Linked DNA regions of Homo sapiens: regions 2, 3 and 4 are each reported to be linked to region 1. The links are microRNA targets in miRTarBase. Many come from high-throughput screens and were not tested one by one. Region 1 holds a microRNA gene; each other region holds the end of a gene's coding sequence.

What was found. Region 1 holds the annotated microRNA hsa-miR-4743-3p (UUUCUGUCUUUUCUGGUCCAG, at 5,349-5,369, shown strand). A microRNA usually pairs through its seed, bases 2 to 8, with sites in the 3' UTR of a target mRNA and lowers its output. Matches are read on the target gene's strand: a 7mer-m8 pairs with bases 2 to 8, a 7mer-A1 pairs with bases 2 to 7 and ends in A, and an 8mer does both.
Region 2: the mRNA of TMEM130 is a reported target of hsa-miR-4743-3p. Seed matches in the 3' UTR shown: 7mer-A1 at 1,256-1,262.
Region 3: the mRNA of PGM2L1 is a reported target of hsa-miR-4743-3p. Seed matches in the 3' UTR shown: 7mer-A1 at 889-895, 7mer-A1 at 1,341-1,347, 7mer-A1 at 1,558-1,564, 7mer-m8 at 3,304-3,310 and 7mer-m8 at 3,961-3,967.
Region 4: the mRNA of ARID1A is a reported target of hsa-miR-4743-3p. Seed matches in the 3' UTR shown: 7mer-A1 at 1,816-1,822.

The regions. Positions count from the first base shown.
Region 1 is chr18:48,665,300-48,672,419 of GRCh38, forward strand. MIR4743 (microRNA 4743) reads left to right here and starts at 5,301; the gene lies at 5,301-5,369. CTIF (cap binding complex dependent translation initiation factor) reads left to right here. Exons shown (of 12, transcript NM_014772.3): 6 at 5,370-5,445.
Region 2 is chr7:98,841,643-98,848,762 of GRCh38, reverse strand. It overlaps TMEM130 (transmembrane protein 130), which reads left to right. Exons shown (of 8, transcript NM_152913.3): 7 at 68-180; 8 at 555-2,273. The coding sequence ends at 707. Among named protein-coding and RNA genes, the nearest start is that of TMEM130, 25 kb to the left of the region's middle. RefSeq lists enhancers at 48-1,247, 6,879-6,928.
Region 3 is chr11:74,330,147-74,337,266 of GRCh38, reverse strand. It overlaps PGM2L1 (phosphoglucomutase 2 like 1), which reads left to right. Exons shown (of 14, transcript NM_173582.6): 14 at 513-6,951. The coding sequence ends at 615. The region is part of intron 2 of LOC112268078 (a long non-coding RNA gene); the gene reads right to left. Among named protein-coding and RNA genes, the nearest start is that of P4HA3, 22 kb to the right of the region's middle.
Region 4 is chr1:26,779,579-26,786,698 of GRCh38, forward strand. It overlaps ARID1A (AT-rich interaction domain 1A), which reads left to right. Exons shown (of 20, transcript NM_006015.6): 20 at 1-2,526. The coding sequence ends at 1,178. Among named protein-coding and RNA genes, the nearest start is that of PIGV, 4.8 kb to the right of the region's middle.

The DNA.
Region 1 (7,120 bases):
GATTTTACACTGGCTTTTCTCACCCTCTATGACTTTGTGTGGCAGGGTTGCCTTCCCTTTTCAAAAGTGGTGTCACAGCCTGGGCAGACCTCAGGACGGGAATGTGACTCCAGCGAGACACAGAGGTGTGGGACAAATGGCTGCTCCTTCTTTTATAGTTTTATATAATTTTTAATGAGGCAGAATTCCCATACCATAAAATTAACCATTATAAAGTGTTCAGTCCACTGGCATTTAGTATGCTAGACCTGTTGTGCAACTACCATGTCTATCTAGTTCTGAAACATTCTCATCATCCCAATATAAAACCCCATACCCACTAGGCAATCATTCCCCATCCCATCACCACCCCCAGTCCCTGGCAACCACCAATCTGCTTTCTGTTTCTATTAATTAATCTATTTTGCATACTTACAGAAACAGTCATATGTGACCTCTTGGGCCTGGCTTCTTTCCCTTGGCATAATGTTTTTGAGGTTCATTCATTATAGCATGTAGCAGAACTTTATTCCTTTTCATGGCTGAATACTAGTCCATTGTATGGATATACCACAATTTGTTTACCCATGCATCTATCAATCCTTACTTGAGTCATCTCCACCTTTTGGCTATTGTCAAAAATACTGCTGTATCTTTTTGAGTCCTTGCTTGTAATTACTTGGGTGTATACCTGGGGTGGAATTGCTGGGTTGTATGGTAATTCTGTTGAACTCTTTGAGGAGCTGTCAAACTGTGTTCCATAGCAGCTGAATATTCTGCATTCATACCAGCAATGTATGAGATTCCAATTTCTCCACATCCCCACCAGCACTTGTGTTTTTTTTTCTTTCTTGGTTTTTGTTTGTTTGTGTTTTATTATGATACTGATGACCCTTACTTTTCCTTCCAGCCCTCCCCTGCTCACTCTTGTCTCCCTTTCACTTCAGGTCTAAGTATTAGTGACTTTACTGGACACTATCCTACATCTCACATGTCTTCCTGCTGCTATATTTGTCCCACTCAACCTCTCCTCTTGGCAACATTGGTCCCATCATAGTGTAATGAGCAACAACCCGTGGAAAGAAATGGGCTCATTCCTACTTTAGAGATGAGGAAAATAACACTCAGAGAAGCAAAGTAACTTGCCTGAATAACAGAGCCATCATTTAAGGCCAGGCCTTCTGACACCATCCAACCCCTAGTTCACCACATCAGGGTATTCTTAACCTCCTTAAAATTTTCTGCAAATTTGTATGTGTGCATGCACACGTGTGTGTTGCTGGGGAGAGGCCCATCACTTGCATCCGACTCTCCCAGGAGACACCAGCCTCTCACACGCCTCTTTTTCATTGCCCTCCCTGTTGTGGGTTCCATTTCTCTTTGGGTGAAGAGGGAGAGATGGCTTTGCGCATGGAGGCACTGGTTAAGATGGAGCATAGGAGAGACACAGCTGCAAGGCTCCCGACCCTACCTTACCCCATCCACCCTGCTCACTGCCTGCTCAGCCCACTCATTCAGTTGCAGGGAGGCCATGCTCCTTCCAGACTGCTGAGCTGCACAGGGCTGGGCCTCCACACTTCTGTGCTTAGGAAGGATGGCCTTACCTACCTTTCTCAGTGGGTCAGCTTCAGGAAGGGGTTGTGAGCAAAGGTGATGCTTGCCCAGTGTCCTGTTGCAACAGTGTAGCGGAGCTTGGGTATGCCACAGGAATAGGAGCAGGATTTTGCTTTTCTCAAGTTCAGTGTAGCCAGTCTGTCACTAGACCTGCTGGGTCCCTGCATGGTGCTGGGTACCAGGAAAGTAGACACACACACACACACACACACACACACACACACGAGTATACAATACAGTCCCTGCCCAGAAGGACTGTTTATTCTACTGGGAAAAGGAAATATGAACCTATTCATGATGGAGACTGTGTAGGGGAAGAAAGACTAGACTATGCGGTGTAGACATACAGACTAGACTATGCAGTGTAGACATATAGACACCATAAAGACATATATAGACAGGTATAAAGTGTGATGCCTGGTGCAGGGTTAAATAAAGTCAATGCAAAAGGGGTTAGAAAGGAGAGCACTTTACAGGTTGAACCATCTGGGAAAGGCTTCAGGAGGGAGACTTCCCTGGGCAGCTCCAGTCTCTCCTGTGTGCCCCGGGAGCACATAGCTGGTGACGTCAGTGGGGACACTGAGGCCTGGGGAGATCGAAGCGATGGTGCTGCCTTATTGACTACAGGTGCCCAATGGGGCCTGCATGTTGAAGGCAAGCTTGCCAAAGTGTCTCACCAGTCCCCAGAGATGAACTAACTTCCTAGCAAAAAAGCGATGAATAACTATGAAGGAGAGGAATTCCCCTTATGCCGAGGGACTTTGTCCCTTCTGAAGCCAGAGTAACCAGCCACACCTGTGTCACCAGCTGTGGGCCTAAATTCCTCGGCCAGTCTCACTTTCTCACCAGGAGCCTCCAGATTTGCTGAGAGTCACCTGGGGTCTCCCATGGATATCTGGCTCACTAGCCAAAGCCTGTCACTCCCAGGTTCCCAGGGAGTCTGAGTGCAGTGTCTGTGGCCACCTCATGGCCAGACCAGGAACTGTGACCCCCTTAGAGTCCTGCTGTAGTGGGGACACACTCCATGCGCCAGCCACTGCAGCCTTCCTGGGATGCAGGTACCACTCAGTTGCCAAGGCTCCCTGCAGCCTGTGTTTCCATGGAGGGACAGAAATCAGAGAAGGCTGTTGCCTTGGAAACCCTGTTGGCAGCAGTGACTCAGCTGGTCTGTAGCCACCTTCAGCCCTCCAAACCTGCAGGCCTCTGGGGAGATCTGAGCCCTGACGAGGGCAGGCCTCGTGGGACAGCAGCCCTCCCTGCAGGCCTCCACCTGCCCACCCCCAGGGGCGCTGAGGCGAGAACAGAAAGCTGTGTTTGGAGTGTGCTAGGCTGGTGCCCAGCGTGTGCTTGGAGCTCAGTGCATGCGAGAGAGTCCTGAGGTGTGTTTTACCCACAGGAGACACTGGGGAGGTGGTATCAGCCATTCTAGTCAAGCCAAGTCCCCAGTGCCCTCCTCCCCTATGGCCCAGGCGGGTGCAGAACACAGAAGACTACACGCAGTTGGTGCTTTCACAGGCCAGCCTGTCTGCACCAGGCAGATTGATGAGTTAAGAGATGTTTGGATGTTCCGGGCCTTTCTCCACCTGCTCACCTGTAGCCCCAGCACATCACAGTTGTGGGGACAGCCGGGGGCCGGGGGAAACTTTTTCTTTTCCTTCATGCCTGTTATACCTTGCACACCATTCCCCACCCCAGCTCCACCATGCCCCTTGCCTACCCCTTGCACCCTGACCCCTAACATGCTCTAGCCACAGCAAACTGGCACCACACATGCTCCTAACTCTAGGCCTTTGCCTGCGCCGTGTCAGCCTGGGACATCCTCCCAAATTCCCTGTGCTTGGCCAGCTCACCTCTCACCTTCCTCCTGCCCCTCGCCCAAGACAGTTCTAGACGCTGCTCCTTGGGGTTCCTGCAACGATCCCTTGTCCCCAGCGGGGCACTTGCTGCTCTACTGTGGGGGGTGATTATCCCGCCAGACACCGAGAGGGGCAGTTGTGTGCACTGTTTACACCTGGGTCCCAGACCCTGTCCAGAGCCGGGCACAGAAGTGTTTGGTGAATGGAGAAATGAGCCATCAAATGGGGCTTGGGTTAGCCCCCTGTTCTCTTCCACCCAGGCCTTTGCTGGTGTTTGCAGCTAGTTTCTCCTCCTCTGGGTTCCAGGGCGCCTCTGGCCATAGGACTTTTATGACACCGATCTCGTGCTGCCCCCAGTGGTGCTCCGGCACCCAGCCCTGTTAGAGGAGTTTAGGATTTGTTCTAAGGGCCATCCACTGTCTGAGGGCAGGAACCAAAACTGATTTTTTTTTTGGTTCACAAGGCCCAAAACAGAAGAGATGCTTGGTAAATGTTTAAACAATGAACTAGTTACTCTGAAAGGTGAGATTCGTATGAACTCTGCAGCTGGAAAATGACCCAACTCATGGGACATCTCTCACCATTCCTCAGTCAATACCAGTAATAATAGTAACTGACAATACTTACTATGCACCGGCCATGCTCCAGCCTCTGTTCTAAGTGTTTGCCTCATTTATTTAAAACTCGCCACCACCCAGAGAGGGAGGAACTGTTACCATCTTCTCTTCAATAGATGAAGCAACTAGGAGACCCAGAAATTGAGTAATTTGCATGAGGCTGGGTTGGCTCCAGAATCTGTGTCCTTAATTAATCACCCTCCTGCCTCTTTGCCTAAACAACAGCAACAATATTAGTGGTAATGAAAGTAGTCATAGTAGTAGCAATATATTTACTTCATTATTTATTTTAATTTTGTTATTATTACCAGTATTTACCATTAAACATATGTGTGTATGTTTAAGATATATTTAATGGTAAATACAGATAATAATACATACACAAGAAATATACACACACACATTTATAAACAAACAAGCTAAACATTTATATATATATATATATATATATATATATATATATATATATATATATAAGCTAGACTATATATGTGTGTATATATGTACCGTTTACTGTGGGCTGTCACAGTTCTAAGCATCTAAGCACTCCAGATACATTCATTAATTTAATCCTCCAGCCACCTTAAGATGTTAGACACTATTATCCTCATTTAACAAATGAGGAAACTCATTTGATGAAATGAGTACAGAGAGGTTAAACAACTTGTACAGGGTCCCCAGTTGGTAAGGGATGCAGCGGGGATTCAAACCCTGGGAGTCTGGTTTCGGAATCTGCACCCTTAAATATGCCAAAGATTCAGACCTCTGGCCAGGGAGTTGGGGCCAGCCTCTCTGGCCCGAGGGCACGCCCACTCACAGAGGACATGAAGACAAAGCATAGACTATCTGAGTGGGCTTGCTGGACTGACCCAGAGTCAAGCCAAAAAGGAAGGAAGCCCTATTGGGTTTTCTGCTAGCCCCTGCCAGCCTATGTGACCTTGAGAAAGTTGCTTGGTGTCTCTGTCCACTGATCTTCTGTTCAGTGTAATGGGGCAAGGTGGATGGGCTTTGACAGGAGTTGTGATGAGTAAGGAGCTTAGCTTCTCTGCCTGGAAGGAGCAAGGGGAACTCTGGTTCCTCTCCCACCTCCCTCCAGGTTGGCTGTTGCATTACGGGAGGACCCCCCCCCCACACACACACAGCTTCTCTAGGGCTGTTTCCTCTAGGTGGGACAGCCCCTGCAGGGCTTGAGGGTGGGCAGCACCAGGTATCTGCTGACTGTCCCTCCTCTCCTGCTGGCCGGATGGGACAGGAGGCATGAATGAGCCATCTTTCCAATGCCTTTCTGTCTTTTCTGGTCCAGGTGTGGCAAAGGGAAGCTGGAAGATGGGGATGGCATCAACCTGAATGACATCGAGAAGGTCCTTCCAGCCTGGCAGGTAGGTGCAGGGGCAGGCTCTCTAACAGCCCACCCCCACCCCTGGAGTCCTGATCCTCTTCCTGGACAGGACCTAACCAAAGCACTCCTTCTGGCTGCTTGTTCCAGCAAGGAGTGTAACCGCCTGTATGGTAGTAATAGGCAGGGCTGGCTACCTGCCATTCTCCAGGGTGTCCCATTGTGATCGTGTGTGTGACAGCCTACTCGGTGATGCTGCAGGCCCTGCTGGCAGGCCTGATGTGCCCTAGAGATGAAATAGACCATGCCCTGGCAACTCAGTGAACTTGGAAGTTTTTGTCCCTTGGCCTGAAACCTCTCTGCAGGTGAAGTGTCCTGTGGTGTGTTCAGGTGGGACTGGCAGGCCTGGAAGAGATTCTAATGTGGCTGGGGCTGTCTTTAGGCTTTTGAACAGTGGACTTGCCCTGCTGGCCTCCAGGTGTCTGCTATGCTTGCTCTTTTTTTTATTGATTGGGCCTCTTTCCTGGAATCAGGCCAGGTTCCAGGACAAAGAGGATTCACTCAGTGAATCCAGGTCTCTAGATACTTATAGTGCTGGACTTTTGGTGGAAACAGCAGGAGTCTAGCTGCTCTCAGGAGTGTGACTGGGCCTGCTGCAGGGGTGTAAAAGCAGTGGACCTTCCACAGTGACTGAGTCTGCCGCTGCCAGTGACCATGACCTACCACCACACTCCACTGTGCCACCCTTCCCTTCTCTCCTGATTCTTCTCCTGCTATTTTATCTATATCCATTCATCTCTTCCTGGTGCCTTTGCCATTTTGTTTCTTCTCTGTTCATGCCTTGGGCCTATCAATGAGAGACAATAGAGCATACAGTTAAGACCTCATCTATTTGATTATGATGTGCCTTGGTGTGGTGGTTTTCTTCATGTTTCTCCCACTTGGGATTTATTGAGTTTCTTGGATCTGTAGGTTTATAGTTTCATCAAATTTGGAAAATTTTCAGCCACGATTCCTCCTACTTTCCCTCAACCCTGGGGTTCCAATTGTATGTATTCTATGCTTCTTCATCTTTTCCCATGGCTCACCAAAGCTCTGCCTGATTTTTTAAAGTCTTTCTTTACTCTCTGTGTTTCATTTTGGATAGCTTTTATTGCTATTTCTTCAAGTTCACTAATATTTTATTCCAGTGTCAAATCTACTGTTAATCCCATTCAGTATATTTTTCATTTCAGACATTGTAGTTTTTATCTCTCGAAGGTCATTGTGGGCTTTTTTAATAAGCCACTGTGTCCAGCTAGAATCTGCATTTTTAAAGCATTGTAGGAAATTCTGATTATCAGCAAGAGTTGAAAACTTAAAGTCCTGGCTGATAATGCTCCTGGCTTGACTGCTCCTTGGAGTATCTACAATTCACATGGGTACCCTTAGGACAAGGTAGACAGGCTTCTTGATCCCCAAACACAGACTTTTGGTGTTTGAGGAATTTGCGGTCCTGTGAGAGCACAATGGGATGACTTATCTGAGTTTTCCTAGTGTTCTTCAAAGCCCCTCATAAATAGGGCTGGCTGGTTCACTCGTCTGGCCTTGGGTCCTGAGGGTCAGCTGGCCTAGCTATTAGCATATGTGGTGGGGACAACTCTTAATAGTATGGACGTGTCCAATGCAATGTGGGATATTTAGGACTCCTGGCCTCTGCCACTGAATGGCCGTCACTG
Region 2 (7,120 bases), not on the chromosome of region 1:
GCTTCCTGAGAACCAGCACTGTAGTACCAGCTACCCAGTCCTGTAATGTTACTTCTTTCATTCCCAGGAATCCAGCCGGCTGTCTTTGCTTTCCCATGTGCTACACTTATCACTGTGATGTTGGCCTTCATCATGTACATGACCCTGCGGAATGCCACTCAGCAAAAGGACATGGTGGAGGTGGGTACTCAGTGGGGTGGGGGCTGGACTACTGGGCCTTGCCTAGAGAGGATGTTTAGAGAGGGTATGGGGGCCAGGCCAGGATGCCTGGAGGGGGTCTTGATATTACAGCGAGGCTCCGGGACTTGGGGTGATGTGCCCAAGAGGCATCTGTAGACCAGGAAAAATTGCTAAGTTGGTGTCCCATCTGATTTATCTCCTATATCCATCTCTTGCATCTGTGTGGTGCCAGAAAGGTGTTTCTGTGCACTCTGCCACCAGGCAGCTGAGCTCATAAGGCCACCTGATGGGGCTCCTGGTGGGTGGGTGATTGACCCGTGGGATTTTGTTCATCATAGGTGGCTGATTTTGACTTTTCCCCCATGTCTGACAAGAACCCGGAGCCACCCTCTGGGGTCAGGTGCTGCTGCCAGATGTGCTGTGGGCCTTTCTTGCTGGAGACTCCATCTGAGTACCTGGAAATTGTTCGTGAGAACCACGGGCTGCTCCCGCCCCTCTATAAGTCTGTCAAAACTTACACCGTGTGAGCACTCCCCCTCCCCACCCCATCTCAGTGTTAACTGACTGCTGACTTGGAGTTTCCAGCAGGGTGGTGTGCACCACTGACCAGGAGGGGTTCATTTGCGTGGGGCTGTTGGCCTGGATCATCCATCCATCTGTACAGTTCAGCCACTGCCACAAGCCCCTCCCTCTCTGTCACCCCTGACCCCAGCCATTCACCCATCTGTACAGTCCAGCCACTGACATAAGCCCCACTCGGTTACCACCCCCTTGACCCCCTACCTTTGAAGAGGCTTCGTGCAGGACTTTGATGCTTGGGGTGTTCCGTGTTGACTCCCAGGTGGGCCTGGCTGCCCACTGCCCATTCCTCTCATATTGGCACATCTGCTGTCCATTGGGGGTTCTCAGTTTCCTCCCCCAGACAGCCCTACCTGTGCCAGAGAGCTAGAAAGAAGGTCATAAAGGGTTAAAAATCCATAACTAAAGGTTGTACACATAGATGGGCACACTCACAGAGAGAAGTGTGCATGTACACACACCACACACACACACACACACACACACACACACACACACAGAAATATAAACACATGCGTCACATGGGCATTTCAGATGATCAGCTCTGTATCTGGTTAAGTCGGTTGCTGGGATGCACCCTGCACTAGAGCTGAAAGGAAATTTGACCTCCAAGCAGCCCTGACAGGTTCTGGGCCCGGGCCCTCCCTTTGTGCTTTGTCTCTGCAGTTCTTGCGCCCTTTATAAGGCCATCCTAGTCCCTGCTGGCTGGCAGGGGGCTGGATGGGGGGCAGGACTAATACTGAGTGATTGCAGAGTGCTTTATAAATATCACCTTATTTTATCGAAACCCATCTGTGAAACTTTCACTGAGGAAAAGGCCTTGCAGCGGTAGAAGAGGTTGAGTCAAGGCCGGGCGCGGTGGCTCACGCCTGTAATCCCAGCACTTTGGGAGGCCGAGGCGGGTGGATCACGAGATCAGGAGATCGAGACCACCCTGGCTAACACGGTGAAACCCCGTCTCTACTAAAAAAATACAAAAAGTTAGCCGGGCGTGGTGGTGGGTGCCTGTAGTCCCAGCTACTCGGGAGGCTGAGGCAGGAGAATGGTGCGAACCCGGGAGGCGGAGCTTGCAGTGAGCCCAGATGGCGCCACTGCACTCCAGCCTGAGTGACAGAGCGAGACTCTGTCTCCAAAAAAAAAAAAAGAAGAGGTTGAGTCAGCAGGGACTTGGGTTCCCTGTGTGTGAGGGGGGCATTCTTGCCTGCCAGCTGCTCCCGAGGTGGCCTTGAGAAGGAAGAAGCAGGATGACAGAGCCTGAGCAGCGGAACCAGCCTGCACCCTCCCTTCTGGCCCAGCGACCTGGGCTGTGGCTGAGACAATAATGAGGCCAGAAGTAGCCGGAGCCTGTCAGGAAGGGCAGGGGAGGACTGTGGGGTCTGGGCTCTGTCGCTGTAACCATCTGCTCCCAGGCTGTGTGCAGAAAATGGCATTTACACTATTGTGCAGCTCATTCTCATGAAATACTGCCATTGTTGCTAAATAAAGCTTGTGTGCTCTGAATATAGCCAAGCATAGACGGTGTGGCCAGAGTCTCTCTTTTGTGCATGGACGTTTTTGCCTTGCAGACAGCAACGGCAGTGCTGTGACGCAGCAGGACATCCCACTTGTCCTCTGTGGTGAAGACAACTGAAGGGAGCCAGTTCAGGTCCCTGGAGGTGGGGAGAGCTGTCCCCAGGTGACTTGGACATGCATCCCTGTCTGAGACCTCAGGGGGATTCTAGAGCCAGAGGAGGAACGTGGACCACACCTGGGGACGTGTTGGAAATGCAGACCCTTGGGCTCGACCTGATACCTGAAGCAGTGCCTGGGTAGGGGGGCAGCCACCTGTTTTCACAAGCCCTCTGCGATTCTGGTGCATATCAGGTATGAGAACCACTAGTCTCTAGCAGGCTTCTTAAACTTTGAGGTTCATGAGAATTGCTAGAGATCTTGGTAAACAAGAATTTTCATTTTGGAGGTCTGGAGTGGGGCCTGGGATTCTGCGTTTCTTTTATTTCTTTTTATTAATTTATTTTGAGATGGAGTCTCACTCTGTCGCCAGGCTGGAGTGCGGTGGCGTGATCTCGGCTCACTGCAACCTCTGACTCCCTAGTTCAAGCAATTCTCCTGCCTCAGCCTCTCAAGTAGCGGGGATTACAAGCACGTGCCACCATGCCCGGCTAATTTTTGTATGTTTAGTAGAGATGGGGTTTCACCATCTTTGGCCAGGATGGTCTTGATCTCCTGACCTTGTGATCTGCCCTCCTCGGCCTCCCAAAGTGCTGGGATTACAGGTGTGAGCCACCACACCTGGCCTTATTTATTTTTATTTACTTATTATTTCTTTTAGACAGAGTCTCTCTGTCATCCAGGCTGGAGTGCAGTGGCACGATCATAGCTCACTGCAGCCTCGACCTCCTGGGCTCAAGTGATTCTCCCACCTCAGCCTCCTGAGTAGCTGGGACTATAGGTGCATGCCACCATCCATGGCTAATTTTCTGCTTATTTTTTGTAGAGATGAGGCTCCACTATCTTGCCCAGGCTGGTCTCAAACTCCTGAGCTCAAGTTATCCTCCTGCCTTGGCCTCCCAAAATGTTGGGGTTACAGGCGTGAGCCACCGCACCCAGCCCTGAGTTTTTTGTTTTGTTTTGTTGAGACAGAGTCTTGCTCCAAGGCTGGAGTGCAGTGGCACGATCTCGGCTGTCTACAATCTCTGCCTCCCGGGTTCAAGCGATTCTCCTGCCTCAGCCTCCTGAGTAGTTGAGACTACAGACACCCACCACCCCACCCGGCTAATTTTTGTATTTTTAGTAGAGATGGGGTTTCACCATGTTGGCAAGGCTGGTCTTGAACTCCTGACCTCGCATGATCCACCCGCCTCGGCCTCCCAAAGTGCTGGGATTACAGGTGTGAACCACCGCGCCTGGTCCCGTTGCTGTTGTTTTAAGCCACCTAGTTCGTGGTACTTTGTTTCGGCAGCCCCAGGAAACAGACTTCCCCACGTCATTTTCGGCAGCTCCGTCTCTCACATTTCATATCCATCCTGTGAGAAATCCTTCAACTGAGATCCAGAATCTGACCGCTGCTCCCTCCTCCCCTGCTGCCACCACCCTGGTCCCTGGCAGGGCTCTCATAATGCCTGGCAGCTCCTGCTCACCCCTCACTGAGCCAGAAGTTTGTCCACAAAACTGCTCCAAGACCACATCTTCCTCTGCCCCAAACCCTTCAGTGTCTCCCTTCTCAGAGCAAACCCCAAATCCTTCTGGTGGCCTCCCAAATCCCTGTCCAACCTGGCCTGTGACCTTGTCACCCCCAGCCCCTGCTGCTTGTCTGGCTGGGTCTTTCCCGAGTTGTTCCCTTTGCCGGGCAGGATGCTGTTTCCTGGACACGTGTGGGGTTCCCTCTCTGCTCCTTCACGGCTGTTCAAACATCACCTTCATCTGTGAGGTCAACTTGGCACTCTCCTCTCCTACCTGCCCTTATACTCATGGCATATGTCACCTTCTAACATACTATTTATTTATTTATTTATTTTTTTGAGATGGAGTCTTGCTCTGTCGCCCAGGCTGGAGTGCAGTGGTGCGATCTTGGCTCACTGCAACCTCTGCCTCTCAGAGTCAAGTGATTCTCCTGCCTCAGCCTCCCAAGTGGCTGGAATTACAGGCACCCACCACCAGGCCTGGCTAATTTTTTTGTAATTTTAGTAGAGACAGGGTTTTGCCATGTTGGCCAGGCTGGTCTCAAGTGATCTGCCCGCCTCGGCCTCCTAAAGTGCTGGGATTACAGGCATGAGCCACCACGCTTTGCCTAACATACTATTAATTTATTTATTTTAAAATTTATTTGTACTTTTTTTTTTATAGAGACAGGGTCTTACTCTGTCACCCAGGCTGGAGTGCAGTGGTGTAATCATAGCTCACTGCAGCCCCAGCCTCCCTGGCTCAAGCAATCCTCCCATCTCAGCCTCCCAAGTAGCTGAGACCGCAGGAGCCCACCCCCATGCCCAGCTAATTTTCAAAAATTTTTCGTAGAGATGGGGTCTTGCTATGTTGCTGAGGCTAGTCTGGAACCCTTGGTCTCCAGGGATCCTCCTACCTCGGCCTCCCAAAGTGCTGGGATTACAGGCATGACCCACTGCAGCTGGCCTTAACTTATTTATTTAATCTGAGCCTTACATGGTATATAAACTTGAAGAAAGAAAGGATTTTGCCTATTTTGTTCACTATTTCTACTTCTAACACCCAGAATACTACCCAGCACATAGCAGGTGTTCATTAAATATTGTTGAAAGGAAAGAGGGATGGCGTGAGGAAGGGAGAAAGGGTTACTTCCTCACACTTGTGTTGTAACCTCACAATGACTGGAATTAGGGGAGGGAACACAAGACTCTAAGGAACAAACTCAATGTCTGTCCAGACTGTCCAGAAGACCCCATAGGTCAGGACAAATGGCCCGGAAGCCCTGGTGTGAGACGTGGTGATGTCCAGGTGTCAGGAGGCAGGGGCCTCCCTCCCTGAATCCTGGAGAGAGGGACTGCGGTGTGGGCCCCTTCTGGCATGGCGGCCTCTTGGACATCAGATCGGGCAATTATCCATCCTTGGAGCAGAAAGCCACTGGCCTGGCTTCTGAGAGTGGTGCCTTGTTCTGTGTTGAGGAGGAAAGGTCAGAGGCTGGAGGCTGGGAGAGCAGGTGGGCTGTAGACAGTGTGGCAGGGGCTGAGGGAGCAAGCTAAGCTGGGTCCCATGTGGTAGTGGGCCAACGGGCCGAGGAGGCTCCAGGGTCATCAGGCAGGGAATGGGTCAGAGTCTCTTAAACTGAGCTACCCTAATCCCCAAGGGATCCATGGAGAGCATTGAGGTACTTGGATGGGAAAAATTACATCTTTATTTATGTATTTGTTTAGAGACAGGGTCTTGCTCTGTCCCCCAGGCTGGAGTGCAGTAGTGTGATCACAGCTCACTGCAGCCTCGAACTCCTGGGCTCAAGCGATCCTCCCACCTCAGCCTCCCAAGTAGCTGGTACCACAGGTGTCCATTGCCACACCCAGCTGACTTTTAAATTTTCTGTTGAGACGGGGTCTTGCTATGTTGCCCAGGCTGGTCTCAAACTCTTGGCCTCAAGCAATCCTCCTGCCTTGGCCTCTCAAAGTGCTGAGATTATAGGTGGCTAATTTTTTAAGAAAGTTTTTGTAGAGATAGGGGTCTTGCTGTGTTGCCCAGACTGGTCTTGAACTCCTGGCCTCAAGTGATCCTCCTGCCTTGGCCTCCCAAAGTGCTAGGATCACAGGTATAAGTCACCACACCTGGCTAATTAAAAAAAATTTTTTTTGTAAAGATGGGGTCTTGCTGTGTTGCCCAGGTTTGTCTCGAACTCCTGGCCTCAGGTGATCCTCTTGCCTCAGCCTCCTGAAGTGCTGGGATTATAGGTGTGAGCCAGTGTGTCCAGCACTATTTTATATTATGCTTTTGAAAACATTATTCTGAGAAGAGGGCTTGACTTGACTTAAAGGGGTTCATAGTGCCAAAAATTTCATCAGTAGGTGTTTTCCTTTATATAAAATTTCATCAGTAGGTGTTTTCCTTTATATATATATATATGTATGTATGTATGTGTGTGTGTGTATATATATATATATATTTATTTATTTATTTGTTGAGACGGAGTCTTGCTCAGTCACCCAGGCTGGAGCGCAATGGCGCGATCTCAGCTCACTACAACCTCTGCCTCCCGGGTTCAAGAAATTCTCCTGCCTCAACCTCCCAAGTAGCTGGGATTACAGGCACCCGCCACCATGCCCGGCTAATTTTTATATTTTTAGTAGAGACAGGGTTTCACTGTGTTAGCCAGGCTGGTCTTGAACTCCTGAGCTCAGGGTGATCCGCCCGCCTTGGCCTCCCAAAGTGCTGGGATTACAGGCCTCCCAAAGTGCTGAGATTACACCCTGTAAGTGTTTTCTAGAGAGGCCCACATAGGCAATGAGGGGTGATGGAGGACACTACTTTCTGGGGGCCTTAGAAGATCTAGGAGATGAAGTGCCAGGGCCCCAAGCCATCTGCATGCTGTGCCCAGTATGTCCAGCAGGTGGCAGTGTCTGACCGGCTATGCTTTCTGCAGGCTCCCAGCCTCTGCCAGGTGCACCGGGGGGCATGGCGGGCAGAGGGGCATGGATGGGCAGGGTCCTGGCATTGCAGCACCTGCCGACACACCTGCATGAACACACAGGCACACTGTACGCACACACATATACTCACATTCACATTGGTGAAACAGCCAAGCTGGCAACCAACTTCTAGAACCTTCAGCCCCTTCCAGGACAGAAGACATTCCTGGGACTCTGGCCCTTGAGAAATCTTTTCAGAAGAGGAGGTCACTTTTGTTTTG
Region 3 (7,120 bases), not on the chromosome of region 1:
TGCCTCGAAATGTTCTGGGCAACGGCAGCACCTCAGTGATGACTTTCAAGGGCCTTCTTTTAAGTGCACATTTATTTTTTTAAACATCACGTTATTTTAGTCACACCTCCTTCTGCTACCTGAAAGATATATCATTCCATAACATCTGTACTGAATATTTTTCAAAGTATTTCAGGAAGCCATTTTCTCCTAACACCTGGTATTTGTGTTCAAAGCCATTAGAACCTCATTCTCCTGACCCAGGAGAATTCTTTAGATACACCATCACTCCTCTGTTTATCATGTGCCAAGGAACTCCTATTAATGCAGTTCACCTTCAGTTTGTGATAGCAGTGTTTTCTTTGTGTGTAATTTTTTTTTTTGGTCTTGTTTTGTTTTAACCAAGTGAATTTCTCTTTTGTTTACCAATTGTTTAATGACTCCATCAGGACCTCTTAAAAAATCACACTAATTTAAATAAATTTTAAGCCTATGAAAATAAATAATTCCAAAACTCTTCATCTTTTCCTCAGTGACACTGCTTTACTGGAGGAAGAACTGAAGAAACTCATTGATGCTCTGATAGAGAATTTTCTTCAGCCTAGTAAGAATGGACTGATCTGGCGTTCTGTTTAGGGGTACACCAATATGTCATGACACTGTGTGGGCATATGGAACAGAGCAACCGAGAACTGCATACATTGAACCTTGTGTTAGCATTCTCTCTCTATCTCATCTGGCCGAGTATCTTTTTCCTTTTATTTTCTTTCTTTTTGGTCAACTGGCTAGACTAAACAAAGTATAAGTTTGAAATGAAATGGTCTAGAGGGAAATGATTCAAATTTTTTCATAATTCAAACAAAAGTTATTACACTAAAAGTATTATAGTAACGTATTGTCCTTCCGTTAACAGAAACATCACAATTCAAAAGTGAGTTTTCTTATTATAGTGTGATTAAGCCTAGTTCTGTATCTCGTAATTGTGTATAGCATGGTAAAAGAAAAAAAAAAAGACAGGTAAATGTTATATAATTGTAGGGTTAGTTAAGGAAATTAGTCCATAAAATTGGCAAGAAAATGGTACTTTCCTTGATTGTTATGAAAAAGTGTCATTGTGACATCACAGGTATTAATTTACAAATTAGAGTATTTGAAATAGGATATTTAGCATTTCTGTAGTTTAGAACAGATGTTACAGTGTGTGGTTTTGGCATGTCTGTTTCAGGTGCCCTTGGTGCAGTATAAATTTACTGTATGTATTTAAAATTCTGATGTTTACTGAACATAAAACAATAGTGGCAACACTCCTATTGGCTTTGTTCTTATCAAATTTCTCAGTGCCTTCTCAGGGTCTGGTGTGAACAGAAAAAACAGTGTTCCTGCATTTACCATAATTTAATCAGTCAATTTGCAGATAGCTAAGGAAAATCTTCCAAAATCTGTAGGTGCTTCCTCTATATCAAGTGAGTTTGCTGATTTTAAAATCTTAGGAATATAAATAAAGATCTTAATAAAAGCAAGCTTAATGTAGTTAAGGATCTTCATATTAGAATTGTGTCATTTATCAAACCTTTTATTACAGAAAAAAATCTGAACTGAGAAAGGAGCTCTGAATTTATTTGACAGTCTAACTTTTGAATTACATTTTTGTAAGTAGATTTATTCTTTTATTTTATGAAGTAATGTTAATTTTACTAAGAATAAAACATCCAAATTTTAAGTATTATGAAATACTAAAACTACATGTTTTAAAACAGAGGTCCAGTTTATTCTAACATCTTGCTGACTTCTGTAGAATTTCTGATTGCATGACTATTATTTATCTTCTTTTAGTGTAGAAAATAATTTTTTACAAAAAGTCACTTTTGGGCTGGGCGCAGTGGCTCACGCCTGTAATCCCAGCACTTTGGGAGGCTGAGGCAGGTGGATCACAATGTCAGGAGTTTGAGACTAGCCTGGCCAATATGGTGAAACCCTGTCTCTACTAAAAATACAAAAATTAGCCGGGTGTGGTGGTGGGCACCTGTAGTCCCAGCTACTCGGGAGGCTGAGGCAGGAGAATTGCTTGAACCTAGGAGGCTGAGATTGCAGTGAGCCGAAATCACGCCACTACACTCCAGCCTGGGCAACAGAGGGAGACTCCATCTCAAAAAAAAAAAAAGTCACTTTTGGCTAATCATGCAGTCTTCTGAAAAGGTTTAATAGAGAAATGCTGTTTAGGCTGGGCTTGGTGGCTCACATCTGTAATACCAGCGCTTTGGGAGGCTGAGGCAGGAGGATTGCTTGAGGCCAGGAGTTTAAGTTACAGAACTATGATCACACTGCCGCACTGAAGCCTGGATGACAGAGTGAGACCTTATCTCAAAAAAAAAAAAAAAAAGAGAGAGAGAGAGAAAAAGAAATGCTGTGTTTAATCTTCTTAAAATGTATCTTGTCCTACATAGTTCTCAGAATACATATGGGGTATAGTTAGGAGATAACAATAACAAGACCTAAACAAATTGCTTATGGGAGATAGCACTGTAATTAGAGAATTTATTTCATATAAAATAATAATATAAAGTTTGAACTGATTAGAATGTTCCTTAAATCATGGTTTCGTTTGTTGCAGCTGTCAGCTAACATTTGGTTGAGCTCATATAATCCAAACCTAATTGTCCAACTATTGTATTGCCACTATTGTTAATTTGTTCCTTCCTTACTTTCTTATTGTTGGATCTTATATGACTGTATGACTGTAGATAATAGACAGCTAGCTAAATGTAGAGCACCATTTTTCTCAATGAGTTTGTTTTCAAAGGCTTTGCACTGGAGAAGATATGTGTAGAATTTTTGTTTTATTTTTAAAATGTGTAAAACATCTTTTGTTTTATATGCTTTTAAGAATGTAGATTGTAATTTAGGAAATGGCATATATTCTGCAAAGTGGTATAATGTTGTATATATGAAAAACAGGTATATTTGGTTTAGTTCTGTGTTTCAGTGACTGATAAACAAAAATGAAGCTAAAATGAATCAACGGCTCATTCATAGTTACTAAAGCCATGTCATGACTGTCATTCTATTATGAAGAAAACAGTTTTATTTGAGTGCTTTAATATAATGCAACATTTAAGTCATCTTAAGGTGAAAAGTTATTGAAGTGTTCTTCTCTCAAGTTAACAAAATTTTACAAATGTTCCTGAAGTGTATCGATTGAGGGAATTATTTTATTCTAGCCTGTCATGAGTCTGTCTGAGCATGATACTTAACATGAACTTGATGTAGTAGGTGCACATTTGCCTAACAGGATAAATTCAGTGATAGCCCAAGCTGGTCAGGAGAGACAGAAGTGCTGGCTAGGAGGTCTCAGCCTCGGGCACTACAATGTTTATCTTTTTCTTTTTGAACAATATTGTGAAAATGATTGCATTCTCATTGAGCATGAAAGTCAAAACTGGAATTTTCTAAAGCTTTGGAGAAAAGGAGAGAATTAGTAGGGCAAGATCAAAGCATACATTGGAAATAAACAGTAGAAATAAGCAAACAATATAAAGAGACACGGGAAATGCTTCTCGTGAAGGGCAAATGTAACACCATAACAGTAGGGAATAAACTGTGTCCCACCTGTTTACTTGTGTTTATTTGTTGTTATGATGAGTATGCACCTACCATTTTCCTTTATTGTGATCACTAAAATGAGGCCAAGGTTTAGGAGGTGAGAAAAAGTATCCCTTTTACGGATTCAGTTCCTGCTAGGATGTTGTATCAGAATCATGTGAGAACTCAGGAAGAGGTAGAGCAGAAATAAAAAGGAAGAAAATGTAGATTAGAAAATAAGACTTCTGAGAAAAAGTTCAAGGAATAAAGATTGTTTGACTCTGGAGAGGAGAAAGCTGTTGAGATAGTTTGCTAAGTTTGCTAATAAAGCTTTATTGAGTCTTTTATTGAAGGGTTCAAAGTAAGAAATACTATGCCATAGTGTTCTCCATCTCTAGTGAAGACAGAACCAGAGGGAATAAGGATCTTTTTTTTAAAGACAGCATGGAAAGTTTAAGATTTAGGAACTTCTTGAGAAATCTTCATAATATCTTCTATTCAAAATCTTTTTTTTATTTTTAAGGGAATAAAAATTTTAAAAATTAAGAGATATACAGATGACTTTTTAAGGGTCCTTCTTTCCAGCACATTTTTTTTAAAAACTCAGGTTAGAACAAAAATGTCATAAAGGGCACTAAAAGTAACATTTGGGTTTCACTCCATATCTAGAAGAATTTAGCTCACAAAACAATTTTTGTGTGTTTTGAGTAACTGATGCATAAGTGCAATGAATAATTTTCCTGCTTCACTGTTATTTTTAATTTAACCTGGCAAATTAAGTGAGACTTGAACAAAATTTTGTTCATCTTGAAGAATGTATAGTGGCTTAGGTTATTTGAGGTTTTCGTTTTGAATATATATGTTGTTATTTTGATGTAGATACGTTAGCAGATGGAGAGGTTCTAAGAGATTGGATACTTTGGAATGTCTTTATATAGGAAATAGACCTCCCATTTCTTAAGCAAGTTGCTTCTGGAATTGATGCAACAGGGATATTAGCTGTAGTTTAATGGATAAGTTGTTCTATGAGCTGCTGCTATCAGTACTTTTTTCCACATTTTCCATTGATATTTGTGATGCTTGAAAAATCCAAACTTCACTTGGATACATTTAATTTTATGCCTTTTTCTCTCTACCTCCCACTTTTCCTAGGCACCCTTGCACATTTTGTTACTGTGAAGGACTATTGCCCTGTTACCTCACTGATAAGAAATCTCAACTGTATTCATTCAGAATGCTTTAAGCTTAGTCATAAACTACATTTGCCTATGGACCTTTGGTTATTTTGTTAATGTTGTCATTATATTTAAGACTTATTGTAGGAAGTAATTTTAAATCTATTTCATAACCTGTTTTGATCTGTCTGCATACTGCTATATGTTAATTTATTACGGCCTTTTACAATTCACTTGTCATCTGAGATTGTTCTAGAAACTGATGAGGAAAGAGTCGTACTAACCAAAATGAATGGGCAATTGACATAACATTCTATTTCAGGTTTCCTTGTACTTGGGGAGCCAAAGCACAAGATCTAAGGAAATCTTATTCACATTTGTCCCTCAGAGCATCTTACCCTAAGCCATAGAGGTATAAATAGTAAGATGAGAATTGCTCATTGTCTGACTCCTTGCACAGCATGAATTTAATTCTAGTTGGAAACAAAGTTAGTGTTGACTACTGGTTACCTTAAAGTATTCACCATACTATATATTTATTAGACCATCTTTCCTCTTTGTTTATTCAAGACTATGTACTTATAAAAGAGAACCTATAAGAATGTGTAGAGTGACCAAATAGGGACAAAGTGACATACCTAGAGTTTGCTGCTCAAATTTTTCCACTAGCGTAACCCTAAAGCAGAGGGGCATGATGAAGGGGGAAGGGGTTCTGAGAGCAAAATCAGAATCAGCCTACCACTGACATGAAGTGTGTTCTGTCTTTAAAATGTAAGTGAATTTTGCATTCTTTATAATAAAACTTTTAATATAAAAATGATATGTTTAATCTTTACTGAAACTTATGCCACCACAAAGGAGCACCATGTTCATCACGTGGCTGCTCAGTTTTCTCCCCCAGTGCCCTCACCCCCAGTGGAGGCAAGTCCTTGAGCTACACACACTGGCTGTAGTGCAAGATATATAAACATAGGCCGGGCTCGGTGGCTCATGCCTGTAATCCTAGCACTTTGGGAGGCCGAAGCAGGTGGATCATCTGAGGTCGGGAGATTGAGACTAGCCTGACCGACATGGAGAAACCCTGTGTCCACTAAAAATACAAAATTAGCCGGGTGTGGTGGCACATGCCTGTAATCCCAGCTACTCGGGAGGCTGAGGCAGGAGAATCACTTGAACCCAGGAGGTGGAGGTTGTGGTGAGCCAAGATCGCGCCGTTGCACTCCAGCCTGGGCAACAAGAGTGAAACTCCATCTCAAAAAAAAAAAAAAAAGATATATAAACATAGAACATATCCAGACTATTTCCTGCCCTTGGAATCTGACCTTCAGAAGGATTAATGCCAAACTAAACTGACCTGAAACAGTTTTGTTACTATTGGCATTCCTTGACTAAAAAGGACCACCTGATGCTCAGTCCCGAGAGTAGGAATCGTGGTTTATTATTTTTCATATCCATACCACCTAGTTCAGTACCTGTTATAGAGTGTTTAATTGCTGATACTAGGAATTAAGGGATTTTTTAAAAGTAGCAAATAGTTTAAGGAACAATCAAAAAATGAATTTTCTAATTCAGTTTTTTCAATGAAGTCCCATCACTGAACTTTATAATGTAATGTTTATTAAGCAGACATCCCCTTAAATACTCAGTTTCTTTGGAGAGAGCAAAGCATATCTCTCTGTGGAAATTATATATAATGCCTGGTATTTTACACTCAAAGCAAGGTGTTGGCCAGGAAGGTAAAGAAATGGTGTCTATGTAGACTTAATATCACTAGTCTAAGTGTCATTTTGAGCCTAGTAGCACTACCTTCCAAGTGAGTCACAACAAATTTGATCCTATTTGGTATGTTTTTGTCCACTGTTATGATTCATCATGTATCTTACAAGAGCCACTCAAGCAAGACTCTGCTTCTATGTATGGTGAGGCCTTGTTGTTCTAGGCTAGAATAAACTCTTTGTATGCCTCATTGAATATGCCAGGTAAAATTTATGCAGTCAAGAATGAATTATTTTTCTGACTAAAGTGTGTAGCAGTAGTTCAAAATTGTGCCCTTGTTTTAACAGTTTCTGTCAACATCTTCTCATTTTTCCCTACAAAAACACCAGGGTGTATTATAAGTACTGCCTGTGAGAATTTGCACTTTATGTATTTGTGTGTGGATTTCTTGTGGTTTTAGCCAAATGAAGTGTTATCAGTAATAAACAGGTCTCTTCATAGGCATGAGTTTCTGTGTAATTTTTATTTGAGATACTGTGTAGTTCATAAAGCTTGCTATCTAAACAGGAAATACTCTTGAAATACACACATCACATACCCTAGAATCCACTTTGCATCTAAATGAATATTCTGGCTTAGTACTCAGGAAATATTTCTTGATTGGTTTATCA
Region 4 (7,120 bases), not on the chromosome of region 1:
AGGAGGGGCCCCCACCTGATGGACCTCCAGAAAAACGGATCACAGCCACTATGGATGACATGTTGTCTACTCGGTCTAGCACCTTGACCGAGGATGGAGCTAAGAGTTCAGAGGCCATCAAGGAGAGCAGCAAGTTTCCATTTGGCATTAGCCCAGCACAGAGCCACCGGAACATCAAGATCCTAGAGGACGAACCCCACAGTAAGGATGAGACCCCACTGTGTACCCTTCTGGACTGGCAGGATTCTCTTGCCAAGCGCTGCGTCTGTGTGTCCAATACCATTCGAAGCCTGTCATTTGTGCCAGGCAATGACTTTGAGATGTCCAAACACCCAGGGCTGCTGCTCATCCTGGGCAAGCTGATCCTGCTGCACCACAAGCACCCAGAACGGAAGCAGGCACCACTAACTTATGAAAAGGAGGAGGAACAGGACCAAGGGGTGAGCTGCAACAAAGTGGAGTGGTGGTGGGACTGCTTGGAGATGCTCCGGGAAAACACCTTGGTTACACTCGCCAACATCTCGGGGCAGTTGGACCTATCTCCATACCCCGAGAGCATTTGCCTGCCTGTCCTGGACGGACTCCTACACTGGGCAGTTTGCCCTTCAGCTGAAGCCCAGGACCCCTTTTCCACCCTGGGCCCCAATGCCGTCCTTTCCCCGCAGAGACTGGTCTTGGAAACCCTCAGCAAACTCAGCATCCAGGACAACAATGTGGACCTGATTCTGGCCACACCCCCCTTCAGCCGCCTGGAGAAGTTGTATAGCACTATGGTGCGCTTCCTCAGTGACCGAAAGAACCCGGTGTGCCGGGAGATGGCTGTGGTACTGCTGGCCAACCTGGCTCAGGGGGACAGCCTGGCAGCTCGTGCCATTGCAGTGCAGAAGGGCAGTATCGGCAACCTCCTGGGCTTCCTAGAGGACAGCCTTGCCGCCACACAGTTCCAGCAGAGCCAGGCCAGCCTCCTCCACATGCAGAACCCACCCTTTGAGCCAACTAGTGTGGACATGATGCGGCGGGCTGCCCGCGCGCTGCTTGCCTTGGCCAAGGTGGACGAGAACCACTCAGAGTTTACTCTGTACGAATCACGGCTGTTGGACATCTCGGTATCACCGTTGATGAACTCATTGGTTTCACAAGTCATTTGTGATGTACTGTTTTTGATTGGCCAGTCATGACAGCCGTGGGACACCTCCCCCCCCCGTGTGTGTGTGCGTGTGTGGAGAACTTAGAAACTGACTGTTGCCCTTTATTTATGCAAAACCACCTCAGAATCCAGTTTACCCTGTGCTGTCCAGCTTCTCCCTTGGGAAAAAGTCTCTCCTGTTTCTCTCTCCTCCTTCCACCTCCCCTCCCTCCATCACCTCACGCCTTTCTGTTCCTTGTCCTCACCTTACTCCCCTCAGGACCCTACCCCACCCTCTTTGAAAAGACAAAGCTCTGCCTACATAGAAGACTTTTTTTATTTTAACCAAAGTTACTGTTGTTTACAGTGAGTTTGGGGAAAAAAAATAAAATAAAAATGGCTTTCCCAGTCCTTGCATCAACGGGATGCCACATTTCATAACTGTTTTTAATGGTAAAAAAAAAAAAAAAAAATACAAAAAAAAATTCTGAAGGACAAAAAAGGTGACTGCTGAACTGTGTGTGGTTTATTGTTGTACATTCACAATCTTGCAGGAGCCAAGAAGTTCGCAGTTGTGAACAGACCCTGTTCACTGGAGAGGCCTGTGCAGTAGAGTGTAGACCCTTTCATGTACTGTACTGTACACCTGATACTGTAAACATACTGTAATAATAATGTCTCACATGGAAACAGAAAACGCTGGGTCAGCAGCAAGCTGTAGTTTTTAAAAATGTTTTTAGTTAAACGTTGAGGAGAAAAAAAAAAAAGGCTTTTCCCCCAAAGTATCATGTGTGAACCTACAACACCCTGACCTCTTTCTCTCCTCCTTGATTGTATGAATAACCCTGAGATCACCTCTTAGAACTGGTTTTAACCTTTAGCTGCAGCGGCTACGCTGCCACGTGTGTATATATATGACGTTGTACATTGCACATACCCTTGGATCCCCACAGTTTGGTCCTCCTCCCAGCTACCCCTTTATAGTATGACGAGTTAACAAGTTGGTGACCTGCACAAAGCGAGACACAGCTATTTAATCTCTTGCCAGATATCGCCCCTCTTGGTGCGATGCTGTACAGGTCTCTGTAAAAAGTCCTTGCTGTCTCAGCAGCCAATCAACTTATAGTTTATTTTTTTCTGGGTTTTTGTTTTGTTTTGTTTTCTTTCTAATCGAGGTGTGAAAAAGTTCTAGGTTCAGTTGAAGTTCTGATGAAGAAACACAATTGAGATTTTTTCAGTGATAAAATCTGCATATTTGTATTTCAACAATGTAGCTAAAACTTGATGTAAATTCCTCCTTTTTTTCCTTTTTTGGCTTAATGAATATCATTTATTCAGTATGAAATCTTTATACTATATGTTCCACGTGTTAAGAATAAATGTACATTAAATCTTGGTAAGACTTTTGTGAAGCTTTTTATTGTTTTCAAACTAAAACTTGACCTTTTGTCGGGGGGCAGGGGGATAGTCCTGTTTTTGCAAACCTCCCTTAGTGTGAGATCTCCCCTAAATAGTGGCATTCCTGGACCCTGTCATTTATTTACTATATTCCAAAATAAGACAACCATTTATCTGGAGGCAATCTCCAACTTAATCACTTATAATATCTCTGGACTGGCTCTTTTCCCTGACTCCAGACTAGAGCATTCAGCCACCTTTCTTGTCATCCCTGCTTGGAAGTTTACTTTGAACATGCCAAAGCTAAAATGTCCTGTCTTCCCCCACTAGAAACCTGCTTCTCCCATAGTTTTGGTTTTTTTGTTTGTGTTTTCCTTTTAGTAAATGGCAACTCCATTCTATCACTTGGCTAAAAAAATCCTTGACTTCTTTCACTTCCACATCCAATCTGTTAGCACTCTTCATAAAATAATCCTCAATCCCACACTACTGTAGTTCAAGATACTGTCATATCTTGGATTCTTGAAATACCTCCAAATTGGCCTCCCTGCTTCTGCTTTGCCTGGTTGAACCTATTCTCAACAGAGCAACCAAAAGGACCCCTATAAAAGGTAAGTCAGATCAAACGCCTTCAGTGCTTCTGACTCAGTAAGTAAAAATCCAGACTCTTAAAAAGTGGCCTACAAGGCCCTGAGTTATCTAGCTTACCTCTACCTTTCCTGCACCATCTGTCTTGCCCGTTGCTCACCCCACTGTATAGAGATGTTTCCACCTTGGAGTCTTTGTACTTTATACTCTCTCACCAAATAACTGCATGGCTCAAGTCCTCGACTGCTTCAAGTCTTTGTCCAAATATATAAGTAAGGCTTTTCATGGTCACCTTACTTAGAATAGCAATCTCTGCCCCCCACTATGTTTCCCTTGTCTGCCTTATTTTTCCTGTGGCACTTGTTACTGTCTGGCCTGTTGTGTGTTGTACTTACCTGTCACCTTCCACTGAAATGTAAACTGAGGGTGGTGGGAGGGGTGTTTTGTTCACTGCTGCATCCTGGTGCTAACACATAGACTGGCACATAGCATCTACTTAAGTAGTAGTTGAATGATACTGTCGATGTTGGCTAGATGCAGTTGCTTTTATGAGGCTAATGTCACAATATATAGTTTCTCTGTTCACCCCCTTCCTTAGGGAAACAATAGAGAAGCCTCAAGTTCCTCAGGAGAAATCAGAAGCAGAAAGAGAAAAAATGCTATCATTGTGGACACTTAGAAGTGAAATTTGAAACAAGAAACAACAGTTTTCTATTGTGTACCTACTTATATTCTGGACATAGCACATCACAATCCTACAACAATCCTGTGCCTGTGAAGTCAGTATGTGGCTCCCATTTTACAGTTGAAGAAAGAGGCTAAGAAAAGTGAAAGGCTTTTTAAGTTCATACACCAAGCAAGTTCCACCTGACTCCAAGGATCATGCTTTTCTTAATATACCACACTACCTCCTTTCTGGATGAGAACCCAACCCAGGAGTAAGGGATCTAGCTGTGGAGCTCAGCAAGCAAGATTTGTTTTTATTGTCTTTAGCACGAGGTAAAATTGTCCTCAGAATTTCAATCAAGTGTTCATCAGACTAAGTGTGGCTGTTAATATTTGGGTCAGGAACAGGATTTGAATAATTAGTATTTCTCAATTGAGAGAGGAAAACCTTTGTCAACCAAGATGCGTTCCTAGGATTCTTCTAGAAAAAGGTAAATGGGAAGCTTTTCATATCTACAATTTTGGTAAGCAATATTGCTAATGGCTATTTTTGTTCTAGGCCTCGAGCTCCGTTTGCTAGTCTAGAAATTGCATATCTGGGCTGTGTGTGGAGCATTACCTAGGAGTTCGGTTTCCTGGGTTCCTTTCATCTGCTCTCCTGCAATGCAGGGAGAGCCTAGCCTGGTCTCCAGTTTCTGACTGGAGTTACCATGGCCAAGAGAACTGCTGGCCAGTGAGCTGTGAGTAATTTGCTTTTGAGAAGTAAATAGAACCTAGCCAGCAGAGAACCCAGGGGTGTGGCCAGTAGTTCTTTTCCCAGGCTCCTCCCTCCCCACCCCCCAAATGACCTTAACCTTCTTTCATAGCTGGAGAGCAGCCAAGTCCAGCCTAAACAATACTCTCAACCTCATTGGCTCTTTTGCCTTGCAGCCACTGCCACCCCCAAGTGGCTAAGGCCTTCCCACTAGGCCTCTCAGTGGGGTCAAGGTTTTCTAACCACTGAAAGGCAAACACTGAAGGAATGGTGAAAAATACCTAGTGACCATGGGCTTTAAATGATGAGTGTTTGGGTACTGCAGTTGGAGGCAAGGCAGAGTCTTTGTCCTTGGGTGGATGGGCATCTTCAAGTGATCGGGCAGAGGCCAAAAAGGATGCTTTTGGTATATGAGACCTGACTGGTGTCACCCCAAGTGTCAGGATGGATGTAAATGTCACCCAGCATCTTGGAAACTGCCAATGAATGCCTTTTATCCCACAGCAAAAAGAAGTAGCATAAAGTTCTGGTAAAGTACAGCAGGCCAGTATGGTCACTTTCGCCCCACAATGGCATGACATCAGAGCCAGCATCCCAGATTAGGATCAGCTATTCCAATCCCATAGGACTGGGGCCATGGAAAGTTTAGCTTCTAGAAACTGAACTGCTGAGAGTAGTTGGGCTACTTACTGGGCTGGTCCTCTGCCCAGCCTGGGGCCAAGGCCACTTCCAGAAGTGGAGGCAGGAGCAAGGCAAGGCAGCTACAGAGAGAAATGTCAGTTGCTCCAGGGAAGTGAGTGTTCTGTGAGAACCACCTAACTTCCTTCTCTACACTTTCAGTGGGAAAATCACTTTTTTGTTCAGTGAGTTGTAATAGCCCATCTTTATTGAGCATTGTATGCCAAGCACTATAAATCCTATGAGGTAGATATCATCTCCACCAGGGCAAGGATTGTTTCTATCTTGCTCAGTGTTGCATCTTCATCCCATCACATAGTAGGCATTCCTGTACTGTTGAACAAATCAAACAGATAAGATAGGAATTTGATGGAGGAAAGAGTAGGTCAGAGCTGTTAAGACTTGGTGTGCCCATCTTAGCATAGCCCGTAAAGACTCTTACATATGGGAAAAATGGAAGAGAGGGAAAGAGGTAAATCTGTGAAAGATTAAAATAGTGTAGAGTGGGAGAACCAGCCTGGGAGGCTGGAGACCTGAATTCAAGTCCCATCGCTACCACTAGCTATGTGACTTCTTGCCAGTCACTTACCCTTTGTGATCCTTAGCTCCCTCATCCATAAAATATAGGTATAGGATTAAAGAAATTGATTTATTGACCAGATCTTTATTGAAGACACACAGTGTGCAAGGCACTGTTCTAACTGGAAATACATTGGTGAACAAAGCCCTTGCTCCTCCATTACACTCAGAAGCTTACATTCTAGAATAGGGAAACAGACATTGAAACAAGTAAAATTCATGGACAGGACAAGCAGATAGTGTTAAGTGCTATGAAGAAAACAGAGGCCGGGCGCAGTGGCTCACACCTGTAATCCCAGCATTTTGGGAGGCCAAGGTGGGTGGATCCTTTGAGCCTAGGAGTTCCAGACTAGCCTTGGCAATATAGTGAGACCTCATCTTTAAAAAAAAAAAAAAAAAAAAAAAAAAACAGAACAGACTGATGGGATAGTACAGGGAAAGCCTCTCTAAGGAGGTGACTTCTCTCCGGAGACCCAAACATAATGGGCTAGCCAAAGGGTGGTCTGGAAGTAGAGTGCTTCAAGCAGGGAAAATAGCAAGAGCAGAGCCAGGCAAGTTCAAAGAACAGAAATGATGTAACCCTCTTAAATCCTAAGCTTCTAGAATAGTAATGCATTGCTTGCATTGTTCTGGTTAGGGATTTGTATGTGATATTGTTTCTTGGTGATGTGGGATATGTGCTTCTTAATGGAAATGGCTGGGAAGTGTGGAGTCTTTCTGGAGCCTGGGATATGGCTCTTTCTCACTTGCTTTCCACAGTTCTGGTAGCTCAGCTGGCTCCCTGGGTAGATGCAGGCTCCATCTTAGCTGCAGACTCTACAAGAACACTGAGAGGCTGCCTCCGTCACTACTCAAAGCCTTGGAGTCCCAGAATCCCCTCCTATCCCACCTAGCCTTCTTCCAATCTGAAACCAGGGAGTCAGGGCTTTGAGAGCACAAGATTCAGCTTCCTTGTTTTCCTGTCAGAGCAGAAGTCAGAAAATGAAACAGGAAACAGAGCGGAAGAGGAGGGGGTTGGGTAGCAGAGAAGGAAAAGAGAAATTGCAGGAAAGTACAGCTGAAAATCTGGATAAAGTTCTACCTCTACAGGGTGACAGCTGAGCTTTTAAAAAACATTCTGACTTGTCTTGAGAGACCCCTGGCCTTTTTACAAATAGATTTTTGAGAGAATTTGATGTGGACAGAGGGAACCCTGAGAATGCATGTCTTTTTTCCCCTTGTGAATTTACAGAGCAAGGACAGTTCATTTCTCAGTTTTGTCTTTGCAGAGAGAGTGCTGCTTGGAGCCTCATGGTGGACTTCTAGAGATTCAAGTCACAGCCTTAGGCCCC